2 separate regions of the Homo sapiens genome follow, and region 1 is linked to region 2. Evidence: fine-mapped expression QTL. A gene starts in region 2. The other region holds a variant in brackets. All regions are shown on one strand. Distances are between the middles of the regions. Region 1 overlaps EFNA5 (ephrin A5). Region 2 holds the start of EFNA5 (ephrin A5).

Region 1 (8,333 bases), 190 kb after region 2:
GGAAAGAAAAGGGAGATTATATTTGTTAAACTGTATAAAAAAATCAGAAGATAATATGGCTTTGTTCACACTATTACATAAAGAAGATTAAAGACGAGGAACAAGCTGCTTAAACACTGTAAACTAATTAGTTCTACGAATTGTTTTCCCGAGGTTCATGAGATATGAAACATTGGCACCAGTGCGTGAAATACACTCTGCCTCAGTGCTCTTTTCAATTTATTTTTCTGTTAGTGTCATATGTATGTGTGTGTGTGTGTATGTGTATATATGTATGTATATATATATATATATATATATAGAGAGAGAGAGAGAGAGAGAGAGAGAGAGAGAGAGAGACAGAGACAGAGAGAGAGACAGAGAGAGAGAGAGAGAGCAGCCAAAAAGAAAGAGGTTACAGAGGGAGACCAAAGCCTGTGGGATGATTGAGGCTGACATTTTGTCACTTTAAGCCTGGTGCAGGGAGGGTCCTTCTCTAATACCCTGTATAAATACCAGCTTAATTTTCTGCCATCACAGGCTACATTGCGCAAATGATATCACGACAAGGCCCAGAGGAATTCCTGATGCTGCTCAGAGCACTCTGGCAACTCCCAGTGCAGCTAGGTCCAATCCAGCAGATGCGCCCTTAATTTGTTTCCCAAGATCTGGGTCTTATCTGAGAATAGGTGAGAAGGACTTGGAGCAAGAGTGGGGCCATGTGTCTGACAGACTTCTCATTCTCTAGTTTAAACAAGAACTATTTCCTTGTCTTAAAACAGACTATTTTCTAGATGGAGGACCAAGAAATCAGGTTTTTAGTCTTAAATAACAGATAAGTATATTTGCCTAATTTAAACAAAAATAGCATTTTTTTTTTTTTTGAGACAAGATCAACTCATTTTGTCACCCAGGCTGGAGTACAGTGGCACGACCTCGGCTCACTGCAACCTCTGTCTCCCAGGCTTAAGTGATTTTCCCACCTCAACCTCTCCAATAACTGGGACCACAGGCGCATGCTACCACACCTGGCTAATTTTTTGTATTTTTAGTAAGGGTTTCCCTATGTTGCCCAGGCTGGTCTTAAACTCCTGACCTCAAGTGATCCACCTGCCTCAGCATCCCAAAGTGCTGGGATTATAGGCATGAGCCACTACGCCCAGCCAGCATTTATTTTTATGTAGCACATTTTATCTTGTTCAGAAATATGTCTAACTTAGAAGTGTATGATTACACAAGACAGTGTTTGTTTTCTAATGTTTAAAGCTGTATTGTAATGAGACCTTATTGTAACCCTGACTCTCTATCATCCCTTTTCCATTTCTTTTCTTTTTTTTTTTTTTGAGATGGAGTCTCGCTCTACCACCCAGGCTGCAGTGCAATGGGGTGATCTCAGCTCACTGCAACCTCTGCCTCCCGGGTTCAAGTGATTCTCCTACTTCAGCATCCTGAGTAGCAGGGATTACAGGTGTGTGCCACCACACCCAACTAATTTGTGTTATCTTTAGCAGAGACACGGTTTCACCATGTTGGCCAGGCTGGTCTCTAACTCTGACCTTGTGATCCACCCACCTTGGCCTCCGAAAGTGCTGGGATTACAGGCATGAGCCACCATACCTGGCATTCTTTTCAGTTTCTTTTCCTGCATTTATTGTTCAAAAACAGAGGACATCCTCACTGCCAACCATCAGCATTCCCAGATCTCCTGGTCAGAATGAATCACTACTTTCTCTGTATTCTCAGAGAACTATGTATCAAAATACCATCCTTTATTTCATTTTAATAACAAACTTCTCAAAGGCACACTTGCTGTGATCTCCTCCTGCTGGATCCTGGCCCAGTGCGATGGAGAAGGCCATCTCAACAGTCACAGAAATGTCAAATCGGTTAAGTTCAGTTCTCATCCAGCCAGATTGTTTCCCCAACTCACTCCTGTATTCAGTGTTGTAGCCTCTCTTCTCTCTTCTTGAAACTCTCCTGAATACAGGAGAACCGAGGGTTTTTCTCATTTGCAGTTGACACTTCTCAGTCTGTATTTCTGGCTTTTGCCTGTCAGCAGGAGAGTCTAACTTTACCCTGTTGCTTGCTGCACACCTCTTAGTTTGTTTTGTTCACTCTTGTACCTCTGGATCCTAGAACAGTGCCTGCTATGTAATAGGAGCTCAGTAAATTTATGCTGAATGTCCCCTGCCAGCTCCTCAGGCTCCACAAGTCAGTGACCACATCTATTTCTCTTGTCTACCTAACATACTTCTTATTTATTCTGTCATATAAAGCTGTCTCTTTGTTCAGACCTGTTATTTCCAAGTTCTCCTTCTGCTCATTTCTAGGCAGTCACCCACCCTTTGAGACCTGTTTGTCCCCATTGCTCGTTCCTTCCACTTGCCTTCACTCCCAGTACAAGGCCTTTGGACAAGCCCTCATTTTGTCTTTCTGGGACCGCTGACTGCAAGAGTCTTGTATCTGTTTTCCCTGGCTTCTGTGTATCCCCAGCCCTGCTCATGGAGAGCTCTGTGAAGCAGTCTTTAAGGCTTTATTTGCTTTTTATACACTTAAGAAAGGAAGCCAGGTATTCACGTAATTGGTGTATTGGATACCTCCCCTCTCCACTAGAATGCTCCTGAGGACAGTGCCTGTGTCTTTAGTCTTGATCCATATAGTGCCTAGGCCAGCGCTTTACGTATAGCCTGGCGCATTAACATTTTTAGGAACTTGAACTCTACCCTTTTTTACACTCTACCAGATATTATAGTTGATGCTATTTCTTGTGCCAGTTAATAAACAATTTCTTAGAAGCAGAGAGCATCTTTGATACATCTTTGTACCCCTTCACAGGGCAAGAAGTTGTAGGTAGATACAAAATACAGTTGAATTTAATTTTAAATAAAAGTAATGACTATTGAGTGGATAAAAGTGTATACTGTTTTAGCAATACATTGATTTATGGAAAAATTGAATGTGAGTATTAGTATATATTTCATTAAGCATTCATATTAAAATAGTAATCTGTTGGCTTTTCCCATTTTAACTAGAGCTTTGTGAATATGAAGCATATTGGTGGGGCACTTGGGACATGGAAATATGTATTATTCTTATTTTCTCATGACTTGTTTTTACTTATATAAGCAGGTACTTAGAGGTTTTAGACATCACATTGTAGAATTAAATCAGTATGATTTCAATTGAGTTTTGGTATTTAATCTTTCTTTTTGAAAAAGGGTAATTTCGGAGAGTACGAGTATTGTACTCAGAATCTTCTTTCCTTTTTTAGTTTTTTAAAATATACTGGTGTGCATTTTTTCCATTACTTTAAGATAGTGTAGCAAATTAAGACCATGAGCTCTGGAGCCAGAGTCTGAGACTCAGTTTGTCAGTGTGATGGGACCAGTAATGATTCTTTTTCATCAGGATGTTGTGAAGACTTGAGATAATACCTGGAAAGCTCTTAGCAAAATGCCTGTCACACACTCATTCAACCCCTGGTTAGGTAATATATTATTCTTTTGTTTTAATTGGAATTTGCATAGGGAGGGAGTTGTGTATTCAGTGGGGAAAAACCTCTGAATGAAAGTCTCATGGACTTTCTGGTGCCTTCTTGTTCATGAACACCAGTGGCAATGAGTGGCTCCCTAGAAAACTTCCATGTCTCGAGTAACCTCAAAACCCACAGCGACAGTAAATCACTTGTTGGCCTGAATAAGGATAGCTATAATTTAGGTTGTTTTTTTTTTTTAAATGTGTTTTCATTTATTGAGGTCAGTGCATTTGTGTCAAACAATTGAAACCTGACAAGAAAAATCAAGGGTAGCCTGGGCACTGCTCAATTATTACTCTGATCAGATTTTAATTAGCACCATATGTAAAAGGAAGTGCTATTTTTATTATCCATTACCATGCACTTGCTTACATATTTACCCCTGGGGTTAGAAGTGTTTCATTAATTATTTTTGTTGGCAACTAAGACAGTATTTTGACTTCTGAATTGAAAATTGCCAACTTGTTTAAACACGAATACCCATCATAAGAAATGAACAGTGCTGCTTACCAAGTGTGAACAAATCTCTACAAACTAAAGTAATTTATGGTTAAGATAAGGTCATTAGCCTTAATTTTTATTCATAATGTCATTCCAGACTCTGTCATTTACAGATTATTTTTTAATCTAAATTAAAATTACTTTCTTAAATTGAGCCCTTTCAATCAGTATGAATGGTTAACATGTCTTTGCATCTCTTTTGGTATAGTATACTTTCCTGATCAACAGGTTAGCAGTGCTTAATTGTATGTTTTTGGAGCAGGCTTAGAGAAGTATAAAAACTTCCATAAATAAAACGAAAAGTTTCATTTTAGTAAGCAGACTAATGAAATATGAACCTATCTAATGACAATGGTAAATAGAAGCATGAAAATAATCATTTTACAAAAATAATTAGATACTACAGGATTTCTATTGGTTCCAGAAGTAAACTCAGGTGACCTTGTCCTATTTATTAAGACCAATGAGCTCCACTTGGTACGTTTCTTCCTTTGCCCCTGCTACTTCTCCGTACTTTTTACATGCTGTCTAGAAGTTTTCAACTTTCATGCTGTATATTTTTTCCTGTCTGACTTTTATGACTTCCCCCATAAAATGTATTCGTTGTCTGAGTCTCACAAATCCTAAACTACTTAATGGCTATGGCTGCATCCATTATGCTGCACTGTGTGTTTGCGTGTGTGCTCTCCCGACATCTGTGTAGATATCTTCTGAAATTTACAAAACCTTTGTAACTAATCCCATAGGTTAACCGGAGTAGGGGCAGT[A/G]TTTGTTGTTGCTAATTACACAGTGGAAGCCTTTGGGAAATAGGCCCTTTGTTAATGATAAATTTGAGCAAGCAACTAAACATTCCTGAATAATGCTGAGAATATTACTCGCCTAGGTCTTTATGACTATGGATCTCTTGCCTGCCTCCTCTTTCTCCGTAGAAGTCTGGCCACTGTGCCTGATATGCATATTAATTGCTGGATCAGGAGGAGAAGCAGGGAGCTTCCTTTGGCAACAGGGTGTAACACAAACAGCTGAGTAATGAGGTACATGTGGATTATTAGGTATGACATAATGAGTAGCATTTCTATCATGGCATTATATATCTGTCAGGGTTTTTGGTCAGGCTTTTTCCTTCCTAGGGTTTAAAAACCCTGCTCATGTATTTCGGTGGTTATCACTAAAAATGGCCAGAAATCCCACTGCTACCAATCAGTTATGCTACCTCTAAATATCAGCCTCTGATTGATAGCTTGTTAAAGTGAGTTTCAAAACCAAGGGGAACTCTCTTTAGAGGAGGTATGTATTTGATTTAGGGTATATTGATTTGCATAATTTAGCAAATAAAGTACTATATAGTTAAAGGTCTGGAGACATTTACTTTTACCTAACTTAAAAAAAATAATATATTGTGGCCTAGATTAGTCACATAAGAGCCACCCTGTAAAAAGGAAACAGTGCAGGTAGAAGTTAGTCAAGAGAACACAATAGCCACACCTTGAGAAACCTTTCACCTGTGGCTTAGTTATTACTATCAGGTTACCCAAAAGAAAGAAGGGTTATATAGAGAAATAAAAAAGATTTATAACATGTATCCCCAAAAGACACCTGAAAAATAAGAGAATAGGATAAATGTAATTGCCAGAGATCCTTTTACAGTTATAAATTAATGTAGACAATTTTCTAGAGCAGTAATACCTCATGTAAGAAAGCCCTTTGCCAATATGTATTTTCTGCTTGTTTTAAATCACATATGCGACTTTGGTTCTAGATTTGTACCTTTAAACAGTCCAGAAAGATAAGAGTTTCTGCAGATATTATTCTATTGATTGCTTAATTCAAAAGATTATAAATTACTTCATCTGTTTTAGTGGAAGAGAAAGTCTTACATAGGTACATAAATATCTATATGTTAATATTATGATTAGTATCTCTTATCTACACATTGACCTATTCCTTATGTTTCTCCGTAGCTTCTTACCAAGACATTTTTTTTCTCTCTTGATAAGCCAGTAACCTCCCTTTTGAAACTGTGTGATGTTTCTCTTTTTGTTTTGGTTACTAGGAGGCTCAGCTGGCTTTCGTGTTGAGTTGCCACACAGCCTTTCCTGTTCATTGTCACAGACCCAGCAGCACCTAGCACATAGTGATACAAATGCTCAGCAAATAGACACTAAATCAGCAAATGTGTGACTTGAAATAGTTTTTCATTATGACTGATTTCCTGTCCACTTTATGTCTGGCTTTTTTGTTTTTAAGCTATATAAGGTGTAATGATTTCATTCTGTCTGATTCTGATTTGTGAACCACATCAAATCATTTCATCAAGGAGTCAGGGTATAGTATAACCTGAAAGGAATATGCCTCTGTTTTATACACTGTGACAACACAGTTTGGATGTTCCTGTGAGAGAGAGAGAGAGAGAGAGAGAGAAAGAGAAAAAATAAACATTTTAAGGGCAGCTAAATGGACTAAGAATAAAGCATTTCTGTAGGGACTTCAAATCAGAGAGTCCTGATACATAAAATTACAGGTATTGGACTTCATAGAAAGCTAATGAAATGTTTCTCCCCAAATTCTGTCAGATATCCCTATTGAACTGGTCATTTTCATTTGTTTTATATTTAATGAAACCAGAGGGAGAAACAGCAGGAATAGAAGGGTCTGTTTTGAAACTCTAAACAAGCCACCTGATGATTTTGTTTATCACTTGAACAGCTCTGGGTTCTTGTTTTGAAAATACAGATGTGTAAAGGTTTACATAGTTCCATTCTAAGTATAATATACTCTATTTTGCTCTCAAGAATATAGTTCTTGACTGGGCACAGTGGCTCACTCCTGTAATCCCAGCACTTTGGGAGGCTGAGGTGGGTGGATCACCTGAGGTCAGGAGTTCAAGACCAGCCTGGCCAACATTGTGAAACCGAATCTCTACTAAAAACACAAAAAATTAGCTGGGCGTGGTGGCAGGTGCCTGTAACCCCAGCTACTCGGGAGGCTGAGGCAGGAGAATTGCTTGAACTTGGGAGGCGGAGGTTGCAGTGAGCCGAGATCGCGCCATTACACTCCAGCCTGAGCAACAAGAGCAAGACTCTGTCTCAAAAAAAAAAAATATATATATAGTTTAAAAACTCTCAAGCCACCTTGGTATCTTCCATCTCATGTTTTATAGATGTTCAAACTGTACCATTTCAAACAGGTGCCGTGCTGTGAAAAACATGAACACAGTTTGAAATTCACTCTTGTAAAATATTTTGATATTAGCATTTTTAAAGGATCTGGGAAGTGTTGATATTCATTAACAACATCTCATTGCTCCAGAAACAGTTCAGCCTGGGTATTTTGAGGCTGAAGTCATGTCATCTCAGGTAGAACAACACAAAGGGCTTGCACTTTGGGGTAGTTCTCGTGAGAAATATGTAATCAGATTGTGGATACCCTAGACAAATCTTCTGTCTTAAGATGTATAAGTCTTATGCAGGGTAAGAATGTTGCTGACATAGTCCTTGAACAGCCTTCAAAATTATACTGGCTTTTCAGGCTCTGTTCCCCTTTAGCAATGCAGCAGATTGAAATAACTTCTGAAGCACTTTGAAAATATTGTGCTACTGAAAGCCTTAGAATCTCTTGACATTTTTCTCCCAGGATCCTCACCAGATCCTTTGACGTGGACAGTGGTGGCATTTTGTTTCTCTTGAGTTTCTTGAAAAGTTCATATAAACCACCATTCTCTCCCAAAACCTTTTGCAGTTTTCTGTGCTACATTTTCATAGGACATTACTGAACACTACAAACCATCTGCCGTTTCACACTTTGCTAGCTGAGGTCAGTGATACTGATAGCTGGGTAAGTGTGAAGTATGTGAAATGATTAGCCATCTCACAAGGGTGGGGTTGCACCAGTACCTGTTTGAAAAGCTCTTGTATGTTAATCCACAAAGACAAATTAATTATTAACATTTAATATCGTATAACTTACAGGGAGAAAAAAGGATTGTTTATTCACTGTGCTACTGTGACACCTTTGTTCAACAGGGAGCGTGTTACAAATGCCACAAGTAGTAACTTGAGGATACATCCTTTAACAGCTTATTAGTAGTCATTTCCCAGTCAAGTAAACATCTTAGCTCAGAAGTTTGTTTAGTAAAGCACAGTCATATTGTGGAAGCAGGAAGTAACCTCACATTGCACAAACACTGTCTTAACAGTGGGACAGAAACTTTTCTAATGACAATGATTTTTATGTAAATTGTATAGGCCTTGAATGGTAGGAACCTAGACAGTTATGAGTCAACATAATTGTCCTTTCCCTTAGAATGGCCCTTAATTAG
Region 2 (8,333 bases):
TGATTCTAATTTGTAGCCAAGGTTAGAACACTGATCAAGGTAGTTCAAGCCCCAAAAATTAAATAAACGCATAAATTCCTATTTGTGCTTTAATTTGGGGCATATAAATTATTGCTTCAATGGCACTTGCTTTAAACCCACCAGCGCACCCAGTGGCCTATAGCTTTAAATGGAAACAGAATTGCAGATAAGCCCTTTTATCGTCCATTACCAACCTATTTTTTCAGGTCTCAGCTCCCTACAACATTGTCTTGTCAAACTCGAAGCGTTTGAACACTGTCTGCATTTTTTTGTCCCCATGTTTTTAGGTTCTTGCTGTTCTCTTTTTGTTATACGTTCACCTCCTCCTATACCTGGCAAAATACTTACATTCTAAAGGGCATTTAAAGTCGTTTAAAAGTCATTGCTTCTGTGACACTGGGCGAATTATAATAAAATTATTTTATATAATGTTGATTTGTATAAATTTAAATCACATGAATGCTTTCCTGAAGAGACAAAGTCACATTATCTAACGGTAAGTGTACAGTTAATAATATAGCTCTTCAAACTCTGTTCAAGTACAGCAGGTCCTCAACGCTGTTTGGTTGAACGTCACTTCGTCATAATGGTGATGAGAAAAAAAATCGATTCCAGGCCATGGCCACTGTCTGTGAGTAGTTTGCACATTCTCCTCATGTCTGCGTGGGTTTTCTCCGGGTACTCTGGTTTCCTCCTACAACCCACAGCTGTGCTCGCTAGGTTGTGTCTAAGCTGTGCACATATCTAAATATTCTCAGTATGCGTGAGTGTGGGTGTGAGTGTGAGTGCACCCCAGGATAGAAGGGTGTCCTGTCCAGGGTTACTTTCCTCCTTGAGCCCTGAACTCCGGCCACCTGCAATCCTGAAATGGAAAAATTGGTTACATGATCTTACTTGTTTTTATTAATCTTTCTCAAATGTATGTCTAGCTCACATTTATTTCAATGTTTAACATTAGAAGTGTTTTGGTCTTTATCTGGAAGTTTGGTGATGTTTTTGTGACCGGAGATATGCATAGGAATTTAACTCTTGTTTGTATCAAGTAGCCTATGGTGAAATTGTTTTCCTTATATATGCCACTTCGCTTAAAGTCACAATTTCCAAGAACATATCCCTGACATTAAGGACTTACTGTATCTATCATCCTGCTGACTAGTAACTTCCATACCAATAATTACTTAGGCACATAATCCCAGAGTCATTTGATTTAGGTTTATGAATTGTTTCACATAGACATTTGAGTTATGTTATGAACAGCCGCGAATTTCAACATCTTATTCCAATCTTATGAATCACTTTATGGAAGAGGACAATGTATACTTTTTTTTCTGTTTAATATGGGACTATTCAAACTTTAAATAGTAGAGATATTTAAATATAAGGACATCCATATTTTTGTGATATAATTGAATTTTCCCATTTGGTTATTGTATGTGTTTCAAACGGGAAATGAGTGGATACCATTTCTTTTTCTTCACCTTTTTTTCAGCTTTGATGCCACAGGAAGCCAGCTTGCTAGCTCCCTGTTACCTGATAGTTCCCTGACTAAAAAGACTCTTCAGTGAGGATCAGCATTTTACCCTAGACAGGAGTCGTGAATTTTCTTTTTAAAGATACACATATCTCTTAAAAGGGTCCAGAATATTTCCTGCAAAACTGTCTCTGTCATATGAGCACCTATTAGAGCCACTATAAGAAAAGCTAAGGAAACAAATCCATCTTTCCTGCAACAGAAAAAACACACACCCTAAAATGGGCCAAGAACTTGAACATCAGCAAGATTACAGACCAGGGAAAAAAGCAAATAACATTTTAACTGAAAATTTGATTTGAAAAATAAAAGCTTATCCATTGGTTCTCTCACTTCTTTCCCCACTTCTTTCTCACTGCTGGAACTTTGTGAAACATACAGATGATGGAGGAGCATTTGTGTCGACATTCTGAATTTCAATTTTTAATAATTAGGCAGATGGTTGGTTTGTGGTAAAGTCCATTATTGTACAGATTGCAATTTGTATCTAGTCACAAAATATAAGTTACTTTCCTAGGACGATTTCAGGATCTTTTCAGATAGGAAATATTACTGTAATTGAAAAACGACTTAACTTTTAGCCAAGAGCCCATAACATCCAGGTACCTCCGTGCCCCTATGAACTGTTTCTTTTCCTCTCGAGTCTTTATTGGTCATAGCCCTAGATTTCCCATCAAATTCAACCCGGCCTGAGCGGCAGGCAATGCCCCTGCTGGGTGCGGATTGCAGGCCCACCACTGGAGGGCGTCTGGACGCTTCTAAACAGCTCTGAAGCGCCTGGAAATCCCGTCTGAGGACTGGAAAGCGCAGGAGGGTGAACGTGAGATTTGATTTTATTGGGCTAATAAGTAAAAAGGAGTGCAGGCAGGTGTGGGAGCAAAAGTAAACTGCCTTTTTTCTCCTGGGGATCTGCCCTTCCCACTAAGGCAGAAAACTCCCTAGGGAACATGAGAAAAAATACCGCTGCTCCCGAGCCCGCGGACCCCTTAAGGGCGGGTCTCGGGGGCCTGTGGCCCCGCAGAGCAGGCGTCGGGCTCACTTCCTGGGCGCTGGACGACAGTGGGGACGCGTCCCGAGGCGCTGGGACAGTCTCGCTGCCAGGAGATCGCTCTTCAGTGGCGGCTGAAGACCAGGCTTGCAACCTGCCCTTGAAGTCCAGGACCGAGGGGCCTTTTCCAACAATAAAGGAACTGCTTTTCTTCCCACAGCCCCCGCCCCCGGCCCTCATTTCTTTCCGCACCGGGTTCGATAAAGGCGTTTATTCTTTGGGGAGTGGGCAGCAAATCACCCTCAAGGTTGAAATGGAAGAGGTGTGAGGTTATTTCTGAAGGGCTCGTCTGCCGCATTCATTTCCTCTCTGTGGAAGGTTCGCGCTGAATTGTAATCACTTTAAACTGTGATTTGCCTGATTTTTAAAAACGTGTTTTCAGAGCATCACTTTAAAGAAAACTTGCTTCCTGCCCAAGAATCTTTAAATCCCAAGTGGGAAGAGGAGGGCTGAAAGGCACAGGAGGGGTGCTCAGACTTCCAGATAACCCAGCGCCAGGCAGCGTGCGGCGTGGAGAGCGGGTGGAATGGACAGGAACGCGCACTCCCTGAGGCTCCGTTCCAGCCCATCCGTCACCTGCGGGGCACCAGAGACAGATGCCGGCTCTCCAGCCAAAGGGTGGGCACAGGTTCCTTTAAAATCGAAAGACCCTACTCCCAGGTAAAAAGATGTCAAATCATTCCTTAGCCCAGACGGAATTCAGCACCCAAAGGGTTACACGTGGCTGCCGGGCTCCGGCGCAGGAGAGGGCGCCTCGGCACTCCCAGTAATTCAATTAGTCAGGTTTCTAGAAGGTGGGGCGGGGGAGGGGGTAGGAGGCGTGGGGAAGGGAGATTAGGAAAACGCCTCTTTCTCGTGGAGCAAACCAATCCGGTTGGAGTAAAGAGAGAGGAAAAACCCCCAATCTGTAAGCAAACAGTAGGCCGTTCCCTGACTGGTTGCTCCAGCTATCCCCCCACCGCGCTCCCACCCTTCCCAAGTAAACTGCTTGGAAGGAGGAAAAAAAAAAAAAAAAAAAAAAAGACAGTCCACATGACCCGGGCCGCAGCGGCAGCAGCGCTGGCTGGGCGCGGGCTGGCGGCACCTCCCCCTGCTTCGTCCGGAGCTCACACCCGCGCTCGCGCCGCCCGCCCGTCCCGCGTCCCGCGCAACACGCCCGGGCGGAGCCCCATCCCCCCGCCCACGTCCACGTTCACGCGTGCGGCCTCGCGCTCTGCTGAGGCTGCTGCCACTGGGTCGCCGCCGCTGTCGGCTTTCCACGCAAGTCATTAACGAGGGGGCGTGCCCGAGGAGATTTTTTTTCCCATAAAGCATTTTTTCTCTCGCTCTCTTTTTTTCCCCCTCTTTTGCAAAACTGACTTTTACAAAACCCTTTCCACTTCTTGCCAGTCGTTTCAATTCCTCCTGGGCTGCTCGTGCTGCTGCTGCTGCACTCAAGTTTATTTATTTTCCCGCCTGGGTAGGGGTTTTAGGATTCGGTTTGTGGTTTTCACCTCTGTTGCTGCTGTGCCTAAGGAGGGAAAGAGGAGCAGCTGCGGGAGGATCGGGAAGGTTTTCTGATGTAGTCATCGGGGAGGTGCCACTCGCTCGTGCGCTTTTTTTTTTTCCTCTTTTCCCATTTCAAACTGATTGATGCATCTCTACAAGTTGCTAGGCTTGGACCCGCTGGAGTCGCAGGGACACTTCTGAGAGCTCACCCCGGGCTCTTGGCACCGCGTGTGGGGGCTCAGTCTCCCTCTCGGAAGGCGATCGGAGACTGACATCGGCCCATCCAGGAGTTGGAGGGATCCATTTGAAAGTGATTGTTTCCCCTCCCGCTCTCCAGCCGAACAGTTGGGTTGGCGTCGTCTTGCAGGTTTAGGAATCCCAGCTCTGCCAGGCCGGCTGGTCTTAACCTCTGCTCTTCATTCACTGTGGTGCACCCACACCCAGCCAAGGAAAGCACGCGCGAGAAATCCCCGAGGCTCGGCCAGCCCCCGGGGTGCCCTCTTCCGCTACCGCCGCGTTCCGACTCTGCTGGGGGACCTGCCGGAAGACGCGAAGAGCCAAACTTTTCTTTGAGGTTTTCGAGGCAAGACCGCTTCGAAAGCCGGCGCAGCTGCCGCTTAACCAGTTCCAGGACACCGACAAGGCTGGGTTGCGGCTCCGGATCCCCACCCTTCTCGGCGCACCGCCCGGTACCGCAGCACTTACGACTCCTCTGAGATTTCTGGGGGTCGCCCCGCTAAGGCACAGAGGAGGCTGAGGAAAGGGGTTCTCAGACTCCCGGGACCACAAGCGCGAAGCCCTCTATCAGCACGTCGCCCTTCTCCTGCAGTTTCCCACCGGCCGCCAAAGTAACTTGGAGCGAAGCGTGGCGCAGTGCGAGGGCCCCGGGCGGTGGCGGAGCCGTGCGTAGCCTGCTGCGCCGACGCTGAGCCGGGCCCGGCGGGCCGGTGTATGTCTCCCCGCGGCTGCGGCGCGCAACTCCCGGTGACTGTGCAGCGCGCGCCGCCGCCTGCCCCGACCCGCGCTGCAGCCGCCCGGCCCGGCGCGCACCTCCCTCTCCCGGGGTGACCGGCCTGCCGCCGCCGCCCGAGACACAGCTTGGCACCTCTTCCCCCGCCCTCGCCGCCGCCACCACACACACGCACGCTTCTCTCCATCTTGTGATTCCTTTTTCCTCCTGAACCCTCCAGTGGGGGTGCGAGTTTGTCTTTATCACCCCCCATCCCACCGCCTTCTTTTCTTCTCGCTCTCCTACCCCTCCCCAGCTTGGTGGGCGCCTCTTTCCTTTCTCGCCCACTTTCATTTTTATTTATTCATATTTATTTGGCGCCCGCTCTCTCTCTGTCCCTTTGCCTGCCTCCCTCCCTCCGGATCCCCGCTCTCTCCCCGGAGTGGCGCGTCGGGGGCTCCGCCGCTGGCCAGGCGTGATGTTGCACGTGGAGATGTTGACGCTGGTGTTTCTGGTGCTCTGGATGTGTGTGTTCAGCCAGGACCCGGGCTCCAAGGCCGTCGCCGACCGCTACGCTGTCTACTGGAACAGCAGCAACCCCAGGTAAGCCGATAACAGGCGGAGAGCCAGGGCTACCCGGGCCTCGGGGCCCTGCGGAAGGAGCGGCGGCGGGGATCGGCGCGCACCAACCGCTGGCGGCGCGCACCCTCGGAGCCTGCGTCGCCCGGGCGCTGATGGCTTGAGGCGTCGGCGGGAAGCGCTCGCGTCGCGCCCCTCTTTGTTAAGCCGCCGCGGAAAGGCCAGGTACCCCTGGGAGTCCCCGGGGCTGCCTAGACCAACTGCTTCTGCGGGGCGCCGGGAGACTCGGAAAAGGGCGGGAGCCGGGGAGTAGGGACTTCTCTGCTTCCCAGCCCCGGCATCTGGCTGGCATCCGGTTCCCGGCGCGGGGAGCCCCCAGTGTGCGCAGCCGGGAGCTCCTTCCTGGAGCGTGGGTCCGCAGGGACTGCGGAGAGAACCCGCCAAACATCCCCCAAAGTTTTTTTTTTTTTTTTTTTTTTTTTAATTTTAATTTTCCCTTCTCTTTTCCCGGTGCGCGCAGAGAGAGCGCACGGGCTGGGGGAAGTGAGGGGGGCTGGGAAGCGGAAGCTTTAGGTTTTTATTTTCCTCTTCAACTGCGAGGAAATCATTCGGCCCCTGAGTCAGTCTGGGCCCGGCGCGCCTGGCAGTGGAGAGGATTCTCCCATCTTCTCCATCCCTCCACCCACCCCAGTGGGTTCAAGGTGCCAGAAAGTTTGATCTAATGCCGGGTTACGTCATGTGTGCAGAACAAGCTGCCAGAGTTGGCCGAGCCAGGAGGTGGGAGCCCTTCGCCCGCGGCCTGGCGATGTGCTGCCGGAGGAACGCGCGCGATTACCTGGAACCGATTTGTAGGCGTCCCGAAGCCCGCCGGGTATGCGGGAGACTAGAGGTGGGCGCCGGGGGCGGTCCTAGTGCGCGTGCTGGACACCGGCCAGTCGCAGACGTCCCGTGTTTTCGGACCCTGGAAGTGGAGTGGGGAGGTTATCCAGAGTGCCCGGCGGGGTCCTCCGGGTCTGGAGCAGTTCCGAACCTTTATTGCTTCCCGGCCTGTGCACAGAAGTCGGCCCCGCTAGGCCCATACCGCACTGCTTTCTCTGGGACAGAGGCTAGCTTCCAGCTGTGTGCCGGTCTCGGTGCCCTCCTAGGTGCTATTTATTAATAGTACCGATTGCATCTAAAGTCACAGGTTTTTCACTGGGCTGGAGTGGAAGTTGGGAAGAGAGAGGCGGGAGGCCGAGGGGTTAGCCTAAGAGTTGGTGCGCGCCCCGGGCTCCAGGAGAGAGGGTATCGGTGGGCGCCTCCAGTTTTTTCTATCTCCTGCGGGCCCTCTCCGCCTGCCTCCAGCCTCCCCTCAGCATGCAGGCAAGAGAGGGATTCCCTGCTTGAATAATGTCAGCGCAGATGAAGATGGGAAGATTTCCCCACAAGCAGTCCGCCGGTTACAGAACCAGGAGGGAGTTCCCCCTATCCCGCTAGTCCAAGATAGTCTTACTCAGGTAGCCGCCCAAGTCCTAAATGAACCGCTGAACAGGAGTGGAGATATTCCTGAAAGTTTGGTTCAAAAAACAAGAGTCTCCTGGAGGTGGGTGGTGGAATGGGAAGCGATTTCTTCTTTGACATGCCACTTACCACTATTAGGAAAAGAGAAAAAGAAGCCATCCTGCCAGAGGAGAGATGCCTTTTATTAAAGCTGACAAGACAAATAGAGCAAGCTTTCCAGTTGTGATGGTGTTAAAAGCCAGTCTCATTATGTTGGTTAGTTTTTTTTCCCCGTTTGTGCTTTATTAGGCAGCATATACGAAGCAGAAATTTGTATCTCTGAACTTTAGCACCTTATTAAATAAAGCAACACTGAAATAGTTTCTTTGAATTTGGGATATCTTGCTCTCGGTTGTCTTTTCTTTCCCACACCAAGCTCCACATTGTGATCTTTTTCTCATGGCATTCATTTATTTGGATACTTGGGTGTTCCAGTCTTCCTGGGTTAAAACGGAAAGAACCAGCAACACCCCTACTTTAACCCCCCTTCTTAACCTGTCAAGCTAGTCTGAGTTAGTTTGAGGACATTTTATCTTAGGTTATCTCTGTTTTGTGCTTTTGATACTGTTGTTTGGTTTGAGATTAGCACATTGATTTTTGTCACAGGTCATGTTTTTTAATAGATCTGCCCTGCCTGCAGAAAACTCTTCTGCTCAGGATGCCATGGAGGCTTTGAACCTGCCCAGACAAAGTTAATCTGCAGAATTTTAAAATACCAAGAGTATTTCTAAATCGGTATTCTAACTTCAGGTTTGTAGAATTACCTTTCTATTTGATCATTATCAGTTTGATAATGGCCAAAAGAAAGAATGATGTACCCCTCTTAACCCCAAGAGATACAGCCCTAACACTTATTATTCTTAGGAATTTATGGACACATTTATCTTGGTATGTTATCACAGTTAAAAACTTACTTTAAAAACAATATTTTAAAAGTAGGCAGTTTTATCTCTGAAGTGTTGAATAAGATGTTGCTCTTTTGATGCATTAAGAAAAGTCAACTTGGATATAAGAGGCCACATGCCAAATAAGTATTTTAAAAATAAAAACTAACAGTTTTCCACAAACAATAGTAAGAAAATATTTCAGAAAATTTCCACGGGTTTAGTAAATTTTATAAATTCACTGTTGTGCAATTCCTTTTCCTGTATGTTATTTCATAAAGTAAGCTAGCCATG

The links.
Region 1: its variant is fine-mapped to the expression of EFNA5 in whole blood (INTERVAL, PIP 0.93).

Annotation. Positions count from the first base shown.
Region 1 is chr5:107,474,839-107,483,171 of GRCh38, reverse strand. The region is part of intron 1 of EFNA5 (ephrin A5); the gene reads left to right. Among named protein-coding and RNA genes, the nearest start is that of EFNA5, 190 kb to the left of the region's middle. RefSeq lists an enhancer at 8,287-8,333. The variant A/G (reference allele first, on the strand shown) is at 4,783.
Region 2 is chr5:107,667,796-107,676,128 of GRCh38, reverse strand. EFNA5 (ephrin A5) reads left to right here and starts at 5,192. Exons shown (of 5, transcript NM_001962.3): 1 at 5,192-5,640. The coding sequence starts at 5,516. RefSeq lists silencers at 2,229-2,308, 3,680-3,749, 5,110-5,159, 5,730-5,799 and enhancers at 2,389-2,438, 2,340-2,839, 4,580-4,719, 5,430-5,559, 5,960-6,039.